Regions from separate parts of the Homo sapiens genome. Here region 2 is linked to region 1. Evidence: fine-mapped QTL for protein levels in blood plasma. Region 1 holds a variant in brackets. A gene starts in the other region. All regions are shown on one strand. Distances are between the middles of the regions.

The links. PIP is the chance, under the fine-mapping model, that this variant and not a neighbour inherited with it causes the effect. Protein levels are from antibody-based Olink assays in UK Biobank. Linkage for the fine-mapping came from a reference panel and not from the study's own genotypes, which makes the PIPs less certain.
Region 2: it holds the start of ITGAM, and the variant in region 1 is fine-mapped to the plasma level of the ITGAM protein (UK Biobank, PIP above 0.99).

Annotation. Positions count from the first base shown.
Region 1 is chr16:48,398,409-48,403,782 of GRCh38, forward strand. No RefSeq gene overlaps it. Among named protein-coding and RNA genes, the nearest start is that of SIAH1, 16 kb to the left of the region's middle. RefSeq lists an enhancer at 666-1,411. The variant G/A (reference allele first, on the strand shown) is at 2,827.
Region 2 is chr16:31,257,554-31,262,927 of GRCh38, forward strand. It overlaps ITGAM (integrin subunit alpha M), which reads left to right and starts at 2,422. Exons shown (of 30, transcript NM_000632.4): 1 at 2,422-2,539; 2 at 4,139-4,244. The coding sequence starts at 2,512. RefSeq lists an enhancer at 2,179-2,278.

The sequences.
Region 1 (5,374 bases):
ATTGGGAGGCTGAGGTGGGAGGATCACTTGAGCCTGAGAGGTCAAGGCTGCCATGAGCTGAGATCATGCCACTGCACTCCAACCTGGACAACAGAGGAAGATCCTGTCTCTAAAAAAAGAGAGAAATATATATTTTATTCTCCTTCATATACCCTCACAAACACCTGGGAGATCTGACTTGAATTTAAAATCCACAGACTGGCCAGGTGAGGTGGCTCACACCTGTGATCCCATACCTTTGGGAGACCAAGGCAGGAGGATCACGTGAGCCCAGGAGTTCTAGACCAACCCAGGCAACATAGTGAGACCCCATCTCTATTTTTAAAATAAATTATAAATTAAATTTGTAAAAAATAAAATCCACAGCCTTCCCAGAGTTCCACCCAGCAGCCCAGAGAGCAGAGGCCGACCCTGAGCCCTGCTCCTGAGCTACTTTTCTTCCCAGCCCTCCTCTGCCTTGCCATGTCTCATACATCAAAGGGACTTGCATGTGTCCATGTGGACACTGAAGCCCAGTGTCCCAGCTCAGGCCTCACCTGTTCCCGCACAGACACCCATTGATGTGTTTCCCCTCAGGCCTGGGGGTGCTCATCTGAGGCCTGTTCACCCTCTGGAGGACAGAACGAGAGAGGAGGCACATGTGGGCCATGAGTGCAGGACCAGGGCCATTGAGCAGCTCACTGATGTTAGAAGAGGCCTCCATAGGGGCACCTCTCCTTGGGTCCTTAGACTCCTGACTCCTTAGGGGCCCCACCAGGGTGGGCCTAGAGCCAGTCTAGGGTGGAGTATTAGTTTCCCATTGCTGCCGAAACAAATGACCACAAATTTTTATTTATTTAGAGATGGGGTCTCACTCTGCCACCCAGGCTGGAGTGCAGTGGCGTGATCTCAGCTCACTGCAGCCTCGACCTCCTAGGCTCAAATGATCCTCCCACCTCAGCCTCCCAAGAGTTTGGGACTATAAACGTGAGCCACCACACCCAGCTAAGTTTTGTATTTTTGTTTTGAGATGGAGTTTCACTCTTGTTGCCCAGGCTGCAGTTCAATGGCGTGATCTCAGCTCACTGCAACCTCCGCCTCCTGGGTTCAAGTGATTCTCCTGCCTCAGCCTCCCAAGTAGCTGGGATTATAGGCGCATGCCACCACACCTGGCTAATTTTTTTCTTTTCTTTTTTTTTTTTTGAGACGGAGTTTCACTCTTGTTGCCTAGGCTGGAGTTCAATGGCATGATCTTGGCTCACTGCAACCTCTGCCTCCCGGGTTTAAACAATTCTCCTGCCTCAGCCTCCTGAGTAGCTGGGATTACAGGCATGCGCCACCACGCCCAGCTAATTTTTTATTTTTAGTAGAGATGGGGTTTCTCCATGTTGGTCAGGCTAGTCTCGAACTCCTGATCTCAGGTGATCTGCCCACCTTGACCTCCCAAAGTGCTGGGATTACAGGCATGAGCTACCACACCTGGCCCTAATTTTTTTATTTGTTTGTAGAGTTGGGGTCCTGCTGTATTGCCCAGGCTGGTCTTGAACTCCTGGCCTCAAGCTATTCTCCCACCTCAGCCTCCCAAAGTGCTGGGATTACAGACGTGAGCCTCCACACCCGGCCCAAATGACCACAGATTTAGTGGCTTTAAACAACACAAATGTATTGTCTTACAGCTGTATAGGTCAGAAGTCTGGTGTGGGTCTCATGGGACTAAGATCAAGGTGTTAGCAGACCATGCTCCTTTCTGGAGGTTCTCGGGGAGAATCTGTTTCTGTGCTCATTCAAGTTTTTGGCAGAATTCAGTTTTTTGCAGTTGTAGGACTGAGGCCCAGTTTGCCTGCTGGCTGTCCATGGAGGGCCTGTTCTGAGCTCCTAGAGGCCACTGCACTTGGTTGACAGAGCCTGCCTGTCTCCATTTTCAAAGCCAACCACGGAGGGTGATTCCCCCTCACACTTCTTGGTTTTTTTTTCAGACAGAGTCCCACTCTGTCGCCCAGGCTAGAGTACAGTGGCGCAATCTCTGCTCAGTGCAACCTCCGCCTCCCGGGTTCAAGCGATCAAGTGATTCTCTCGTCTCAGCCTCCTGAGTAGCTGGGACTACAGGCGCCCACCATCATGCCTGGCTAATTTTTGTATTTGTATTTTTATTTTTATTTTTATTTTTATTTTTTTTTACTTTTTATTGATCATTATTGGGTGTTTCTCGCAGAGGGGGATTTGGCAGGGTCATAGGACAATAGTGGAGGGAAGGTCAGCAGATAAACAAGTGAACAAAGGTCTCTGGTTTTCCTAGGCAGAGGACCCTGGGGCCTTCCCCAGTGTTTGTGTCCCTGGGTACTTGAGATTAGGGAGTGGTGATGACTCTTAACGAGCATGCTGCCTTCAAGCATCTGTTTAACAAAGCACATCTTGCACTGCCCTTGATCCATTTAACCGTGAGTGGACACAGCACATGTTTCAGAGAGCACCGGGTTGGAGGTAAGGTCATAGATCAACAGCATCCCAAGGCAGAAGAATTTTTCTTAGTACAGAACAAAATGGAGTCTCCTATGTCTACTTCTTTAATTTTTGTATTTTTAGTAGAGACGGGGTTTTACCATGTTGGTCAAGCTGGTCTCGAACTCCTGACCTCAGGTGACCTGCCCGCCTAGGCCTCCCAAAGTGTTGGGATTACAGGCGTGAGTTACTGCGCCTGGCCTGCCTCACACTTCTAATCTTTCTCCTTTTTCATCTCTCTCATCTCTATAGCTCATCTACTTCTCTACCTACTTCTTTTTCCCTTTTAAGGACTCAAAAGATTAGATGGGCTCATCCAGAAAATTCAGGAGAACTTTCCCATTTCAG[G/A]GTCAGCTCAGCAGCAACTTGATGTCATCTGCAACCTTAATACCCCTTTGGCAGGTAAGGTAACAGGTTCCAGGGATTTAGATGTGTATGTTTTTGGCGGGGGTTGGGGGGGCATTCTGCCTTCCACAGGTGGCAATCCTGAGGAACAGCCTCTCTGAGAAGATGATCGATAGCTGAACATTGCAAAGGAGCAAACCATGAGCCATGCCGCCCAGTATAGGTGCCACTAGCCCCCGTGACTATTTAAATAAATTAGACTTGGCCTGGCAAGGTGGCTCATGCCTGTAATCCCAGCACTTTGGGAGGCCGAGGCAGGCGGATCACCTGAGGTCGGGAGTTTGAGAACAGCCTGATCAACATGGAGAAACACCGTCTCTACTAAAAATACAAAATTAGCCGGGCGTGGTGGCGCATGCCTGTAATCCCAGGCAGGAGAATCGCTTGAACCTGGGAGGCAGAGGTTGCGGTGAGCCGAGATCTCGCCATTGCACTCCAGCCTGGGCAACAAAAATAAATAAATAAATGAGACTTAAATACAGTGGGTTGCAGTGGCTTGTGCCCATAATCCCAGAACTTTGGGAGGTTGAGGCAGGAAGATCGCTTGAGCCCAGGAGTTCTAGACTAGCCTGGGCAACATAACAAGACCCTGTCTCAAAACAACAAGAACAACAACAAAAAAACTCAAAAGCAAAAATGAATAAATAAATACAATTAAAAATTCATTCCATTCCTCAGTCACACTAGCCACATTTCAAAGGTTCAATCCCCACATTTAACTAGTGGTTACTGTACTGGACAATGCAGGTTAATAGAACATTTCCATCATCCCAGAAGGTTCTACTGAATGGAGTTTGATTCAGAGGAGATGAGTTCCAGGCAGAGGAAGGGGCACATGCAAAGTTTTGATCCCATTGACACCATCCTACTAGGGTGTGGAAGGACATAACACACACCAGGAGCACAAGCCTGGCAGATCTGTATTCCAAACCCATCACAGAATCATAAGTTAACCATCGACTATAAGTATCAGAAAATGACCTCACAGACCCTGGGCCACCCCATGCCCTAGATGCAAACCCCAGTTCAAGATAGCTTGGATGCACCCCAAGCTCTCCTAACTCTCCGTTCATTATTCCTTCCTTTATACCCTGCTGCTTTCCCGACTAGGAAGGCCGTCTTTCCCCCAGTCTACCTCCTCATTGCTTTCTTCTTTTTTTTTTTTAAGACAGAGTTTCACTCTTGTTGCCCAGGCTGGAGTGCAATGGCGCGATCTTGGCTCACTGCAACCTCTGGCTCCGGGTTCAAGTGATTCTCACTGCCTCAGCCTCCCGAGTACCTGGGATTACAGGCGCATGCCACCAAACCTGGCTAATTTTGTGTTTTTATTAGAGACATGGTTTTTTCCTGTTGGTCAGGCTGGTCTCGAACTCCTGACCTCAGGTGATCCACCCCCCCTTGGCCTCCCAAAGTGCTTGTATTACAGGCATGAGCCACCGTGCCCAGCCACTTTCTTTTTTATTTATTTATTTTTGAGATGGAGTCTCACTCTGTCACCCAGGCTGAAGTGCAGTGGCGCAATCTCGGATCACTGCAATCTCTGCCTCCCAGGTTCAAGTGATTCTCCTGCCTCAGGCTTCTGAGTAGCTGGAACTACTGCCACCAAGCTCAGCGACTTTTTTTGTATTTTTGGTAGAGACAGGGTTTCGTTGTGTTGGCCAGGCTAGTCTCGAACTCCTGACTTCAAGTGATCTGCCTATCTCGGCTTCCCAAAGTGTTGGGATTACAGGCGTGAGTCACCATGGCCAGCCCTCATTTCTTTCAAGAGCCAATCTAAAGAGTACACTTTCAGAAAATCTCAGGTTGGTTTTTTTTTTTTTGCAAGAGAACTTATGCTAATTTCCCCTTTACTTTTATTTTCTTATTTTGTTTTTGTTTTAATCCACTCATCTACACACTGATCCCCTTTATTTTTAGATATGCACAAGGGATACAGTTGGGCCAGCATCCCCTCATTTTTATTCTTTGTTAAAGGTCTCCCTGTCTTGTCTCCATAACTAAATTGCACAGCAACTGTGACTTCTCCGTGTTTGGTTTCCCCACAGCAGATGGCAAAGGTTATTGAGAAGTTTTTACTGAAGAAAGGTATAAAGTAGGTATGGTGGAGAATAGAAGGAGATAGGACAATTCCAAAGTCATAAAGGTCATTCCAGACTGATTGGTGATGTGCAAAATGTCTCTGTTTTGTTTGTGATGTGGCTGGGATGAAAGAGGTTTTTTTTTTTTTGTGACCAGGGCTGGGCAGGGACAACTTCCTGTCTAGCACCTTCACACATACCTTCAGAGACCATTTCCTCCATCTTCCTTTTGTCCTGGGGAGCTCCCTTAGAATATGTGTCCACTTCTTGTCACTTTGAGTTGATGCTTTATAGACTCCTTGAAGGAAAGTTATAGGATGAAAATAGAAATAGAGCATCAGGGATCATTGTGTTGGGGATATCTTTAAGACATTCTAGAGTTTTAAAAGGTTCCATTTTGTAGATAATTCCTT
Region 2 (5,374 bases), 17 Mb before region 1:
GTAGAGTCAGGGTCTTGCTGTGTTGCCCAGGCTGGTCTTGAGTTCCTGAGCTCAAATGATCCCTCTGCCTTGGCCTCCCAATGTGCTGAGATTACAAGCAGGAGTCACCACACCTGGCTATATATAAAAATTATAAACAGATAATTTTTAACCAAATGTACATAATTTTAATTGCTTTTTTTTTTTTCAGCCAGCAAGCATTTTTTTCCATCTAGTTATCGGGAAAGTAGAACTAGAGGCAAAAGAAAATGTGTTGAATGGTGAAACCCTGTCTCTACTGAAAATACAAAAAATTAGCCAGGCGTGGTGGCAAGCACCTGTATTCTCAGCTACTCGGGAGGCTGAGGCAGGAGAATCACTTGAACTCGGGAGGCAGAGGTTGCAGTGAGCTGAGATCACGCCACTGCACTCCAGCCTGGGCGACAGAGGGAGACTCCGTTTCACAAAAAAAAAAAAAAAAAAAAAAAGAAAATGTGTTGAGAAAGAGTGAAAAAAATCATTGGCTTGAGAATCACATTGGCGGTCACATAAAGGTGAGGTTTGTGTTCCATGTATGTGTGGAAGGATACCTATTTTCCTGTGCCTTTGAAAACAGAATTAAAAGTGACAGACACAGGGGAGGGTAAGGATATATCACAGAGTGAAGTATCATTGAACCATTCCTCTGTTGAATATTCAGGTTTTTTTAGCTTTTCATATTAACAATAATGCTGCAATGAACAAGCTTGCAAATATATATATATATATATATTTTTTTTTTTTTAGAGATAAGAGTCTTGCTCTGTCGCCTAGGCTGGAGTGCAGTGGCACAATCTCTGCTCACTGCAACCTCCGCCTCCAGGGTTCAAGTGATTCTGCTGCCTCAGCCTCCCAGGTGGGATTACAGGTGCCTGCCACCACGCCTGGCTAATTTTTTTGTCTTTTTAGTAAAGATGAGGTTTCACCATGTTGGGCAGGCTGGTTTCAATTGCTGACCTCAAGTGAGCCACCCCGCCTCAGCCTCCCAAAATGCTAGGATTACAGGCATGAGCCACCGCACCCAGCCAAGTTTGTACATATATTTTTGACTACACTTCTTAACTATTCTTAGGATAAATTACTAGAAGTGAAAATTCTTGGGTGAAGAGCTTGAGGCCTTTACACACACACACACACACACACACAAAAATAGGCTGGATGCAGTGGCTCACACCTGTAATCTCAGCAGTTTGGGAGGCTGAGGAAGGAGGATCACTTGAGTCCAGGAGGTTGAGAATAGCCTGAACAACATAGCAAGATCTTGTCTCTACAAAAAATTTAAAAAAAATTAGCTGGCCATGGCAGCATGTGCCTGTAGTACCAGCTACTCGGAAGGCTGAGGTAGGAGGATCGCTTGAGCCCAGGAGGTTGATTGAAGCTGCAGTGAGCTGTGATTACACCACTGCACTCCAGCCTGGGCAACAGAGCTAGACTCTGTCTCTAAAAAAAGCACAAAATAATATTTAAAAAGCACCAGGTATGCCTGTACTTGAGTTGTCTTTGTTGATGGCTACAAATGAGGACAGCTCTGGCTGAAGGGCGCTTCCATTTCCATGGGCTGAAGGAGGGACATTTTGCAAAGTGTGTTTTCAGGAAGACACAGAGTTTTACCTCCTACACTTGTTTGATCTGTATTAATGTTTGCTTATTTATTTATTTAATTTTTTTTTTGAGACAGAGTCTCACTCTGTCACCTGGGCTGGAGTGCAGTGGCATTATTGAGGCTCATTGCAGTCTCAGACTCCTGAGCTCAAACAATCCTCCTGCCTCAGCCTCTGGAGTAGCTAGGACTACAGGCATGTGCCACCATGCCTGGCTAATTTTTTAAATGTATTTTTTTGTAGAGTCGGGGTCTCCCTATGTTGCCCAGGCTGGAGTGCAGTGGTGTGATCCTAGCTCACTGCAGCCTGGACCTCGGGCTCAAGTAATTCTCACACCTCAGCCTGTCCAGTAGCAGGGGCTACAGGCGCGCACCACCATGCCCAGCTAATTAAAAATATTTTTTTGTAGAGACAGGGTCTCTCTATGTTGCCCAGGCTGGTTTCAAACTCCCAGGCTCAAGCAATCCTCCTGCCTTGGCCTCCCAAAGTGCTGGCATTACAGGCGTGAGCCACTGCGCCTGGCCCGTATTAATGTTTAGAACACGAATTCCAGGAGGCAGGCTAAGTCTGTTCAGCTTGTTCATATGCTTGGGCCAACCCAAGAAACAAGTGGGTGACAAATGGCACCTTTTGGATAGTGGTATTGACTTTGAAAGTTTGGGTCAGGAAGCTGGGGAGGAAGGGTGGGCAGGCTGTGGGCAGTCCTGGGCGGAAGACCAGGCAGGGCTATGTGCTCACTGAGCCTCCGCCCTCTTCCTTTGAATCTCTGATAGACTTCTGCCTCCTACTTCTCCTTTTCTGCCCTTCTTTGCTTTGGTGGCTTCCTTGTGGTTCCTCAGTGGTGCCTGCAACCCCTGGTTCACCTCCTTCCAGGTTCTGGCTCCTTCCAGCCATGGCTCTCAGAGTCCTTCTGTTAACAGGTGCATGGGGGTGGGGTGGGGGACTCTGGGTGGGGAGGAGGGTAACTTTTGGGTCTGTCATAAATAGAGGGCCCAGAATATGTAGGAGTCAGTCTGGGGAGAGGCAAAGGGGATTTGGGGAAGGAGAAAGGGTTCAAGAAGAAGCAGGGAGAACAGCTAGACCCAGACAGGCTGGCCAGGGAAGCCTGGATGAATGACCACATTCATGGACTGTGCAAGGCTGCTTGCCGGTCCCCTTGCTTCACACATGAGGAGACGGAGGCCCAGGGAGGAGAAGTGACATGGCTCAGGGTGCGCAGCAGGTGTGAGACCCCTTTCCTGAGTGCTTCCTCCTGGATCCCCTCTCACCATCTCCACTTTGCCTCCGGTTCTATTTTCCAAGGTCCCGGGTGCAAATGTTTGTTGAATGACTGATGAATGAAAATGATTTGAGTTTGTTACCTTTTATGCTTATATGTTGTGGAAAATGAAATTCTCCTCAAAAGGGAAGGAAATACTTGAGAGCTGCATAGGAAGGAAATTATCTAATTAAGAATGTATAGAAACTTCACTGTTGGGCAAATCATCGTTGTGACACCGGGGGAAGAAGCCATTTAGGTGCTCAGAAGGGAGGCTGGAATTCAGAGCAGGACTGGACGTGCCCCACGACGGTGGTTCTTAGGTCAGGAGTCAGCAAACAGTGGCCTGGGGGCCCGATATGGCCCACGACCTGTTTTTGCACAACCTGCCAGCTAGAGATTGAAGATGAACACTGATAATCGATTTGATGATAGGGAGCACCACCCCCAAAGAATTCTATTTGTCTCATTTGTAAACCCGTATTACAAACAAATTGTACTCAATCATTATGTTTGAAATTTCCCTAATGACAAATTTGTGGAAAAGTATTTTCTGTCTTGTTATATAAGTACTTGTACAACATATTCTATCAGCCTCTTGGTCTGCAAAACCTAAAATTTACTATCTGGCTGTTTACAGAATAAGTGTGCTAATCCCCGCCCCAGGCTAACAGAGCTGGACCTGGGAGGCAGACATCTGGATGCTGGGTTAGTTAGGGTGACCGAATGGATGGGAAAGGGAATGGAGCAGGAAGACATGCTGCTATCTTTTTTTTTTTTTTTTTTTTTTGATACAGGGTCTTTCTCTGTTGCCCAGGCTGTAGTGCAGTGGCATGATCATGGTTCACTGCAGCCTTGACCTCCTGGGTTCAAGCAATCCTCCCACCTCAGCCTCCTGAGTACCACTACACCCGGCTAATTTTTTATTTTTTGTAGAGATGGGGTCTCACTGTGTTGCCTAGGCTGGTCTTAAACTCCTGAGCCCAGGTGATCCTCCCACGTCAGCCTCTTAAATTATTGGGATAACAGGCCTGAGCCACCACACCCAGCCATTGCTTTCTTTTAAATTATTATTAGTTTTTGTTTTTTTTTTGTATTTAATTTTGAGATAGGATCTCTCTCTGTTGCTCAGGCTGGAGTGCAGTGGCACAATCAGGGCTCAAGTGATCCTCCTGCCTCAGCCCTCCAAAGTGCTAGGACTACAGCCCCTAACTGGCATGCTACTTTCCTCTGCTTGATCCTTCCCCCATTCTCCCTTTAGCCTTGACCTTATGTCATGGGTTCAACTTGGACACTGAAAACGCAATGACCTTCCAAGAGAACGCAAGGGGCTTCGGGCAGAGCGTGGTCCAGCTTCAGGGATCCAGGTGAGACCCTTAGATGGAGCCCCCTTTCTCAGTGCTTTCTCTCCAAGACTTACATACCTGAAAAAAATCAGCGATTTGAGTGATCTTTTTCAACAGATAAATCAATTCAAAATATACAACAAATTCATCTTTTGAATTTACAGTATTCTAAATTCAAAAGATGCAAAAGGGTGTAAGAGTAAAAATCTCTTCCTTACTCCCTTCCCCTAGTTCCCTTCCCAGGAGGGACCTCACAAATGGTTTCCTGGGTGTTCCTTCGGGGAGACTCTGTGTGTGCATAACACATACACGTTCCCTCCCTCAGCCAACACACCATGTGTAGTATACATTGTACTGAAATTAAGGCCTGCCTGCAGGCTGCCGCCTATTTTTGTGAATGAATTTTATTGAAAACAACTCCGTCCACTTGTCTCTTACTGTTTATTGCCCTTCCCTCCCTTCCTCCCTTCCTTCCTTCCTTCCTTCTTTCCTTCCTTCCTTCCTCCCTCTCTCATTCCCTGCTTCCCTCTTTCCCTCCTTCCCTCCCTTCCCTCCCTTCCATCCTTCCTTCCTTCCTTCCTTCCTTCCTTCCTTCCTTCCTTCCTTCCTTCCTTCCTTCCTTCCTTCATTTCTTTCTTTCCTTTCTGACATGGTCTTGTTCTGTCATTCAGCCTGGAGTGCACAGGTGAAATCATAGCTCACTGTAGACTCAAACTCCTGGGCTCAAGCAATCCTCCCACCTTAGCCTCCTGAGTAGCTGGGACTACAGGCATGTGCCACCACACCTGGCTAATTTTTTGATTTTTTTTGTATAGACGAGGTCTCACTCTGTTGCCCAATCTGGTCTCAAACTCCTGGCCTCAAGTCATCCTCTTGCTTGGGCCTCCCAACTTGCTGGGATGATAGGTGTAAACCACTGTGCCTGGCTATGGCCACTTTTGAGCTGTAATGGCAGAATTCAGGAGCTGTGATAGAGATTGTATGGACCCTGAAGCCTAAAACATTTACCTTTACAGAAACAGTAATTGTGGAGGTGATAGTACCTTTCCAGAAGAAGGGGGCTGGTCTCTGCTCTTTGCTTTATCTCCCATAATACAGCCCAGTGATTTGAGTCCATTAATCCCATGTTATGCTTGCATTGCATGCCATAA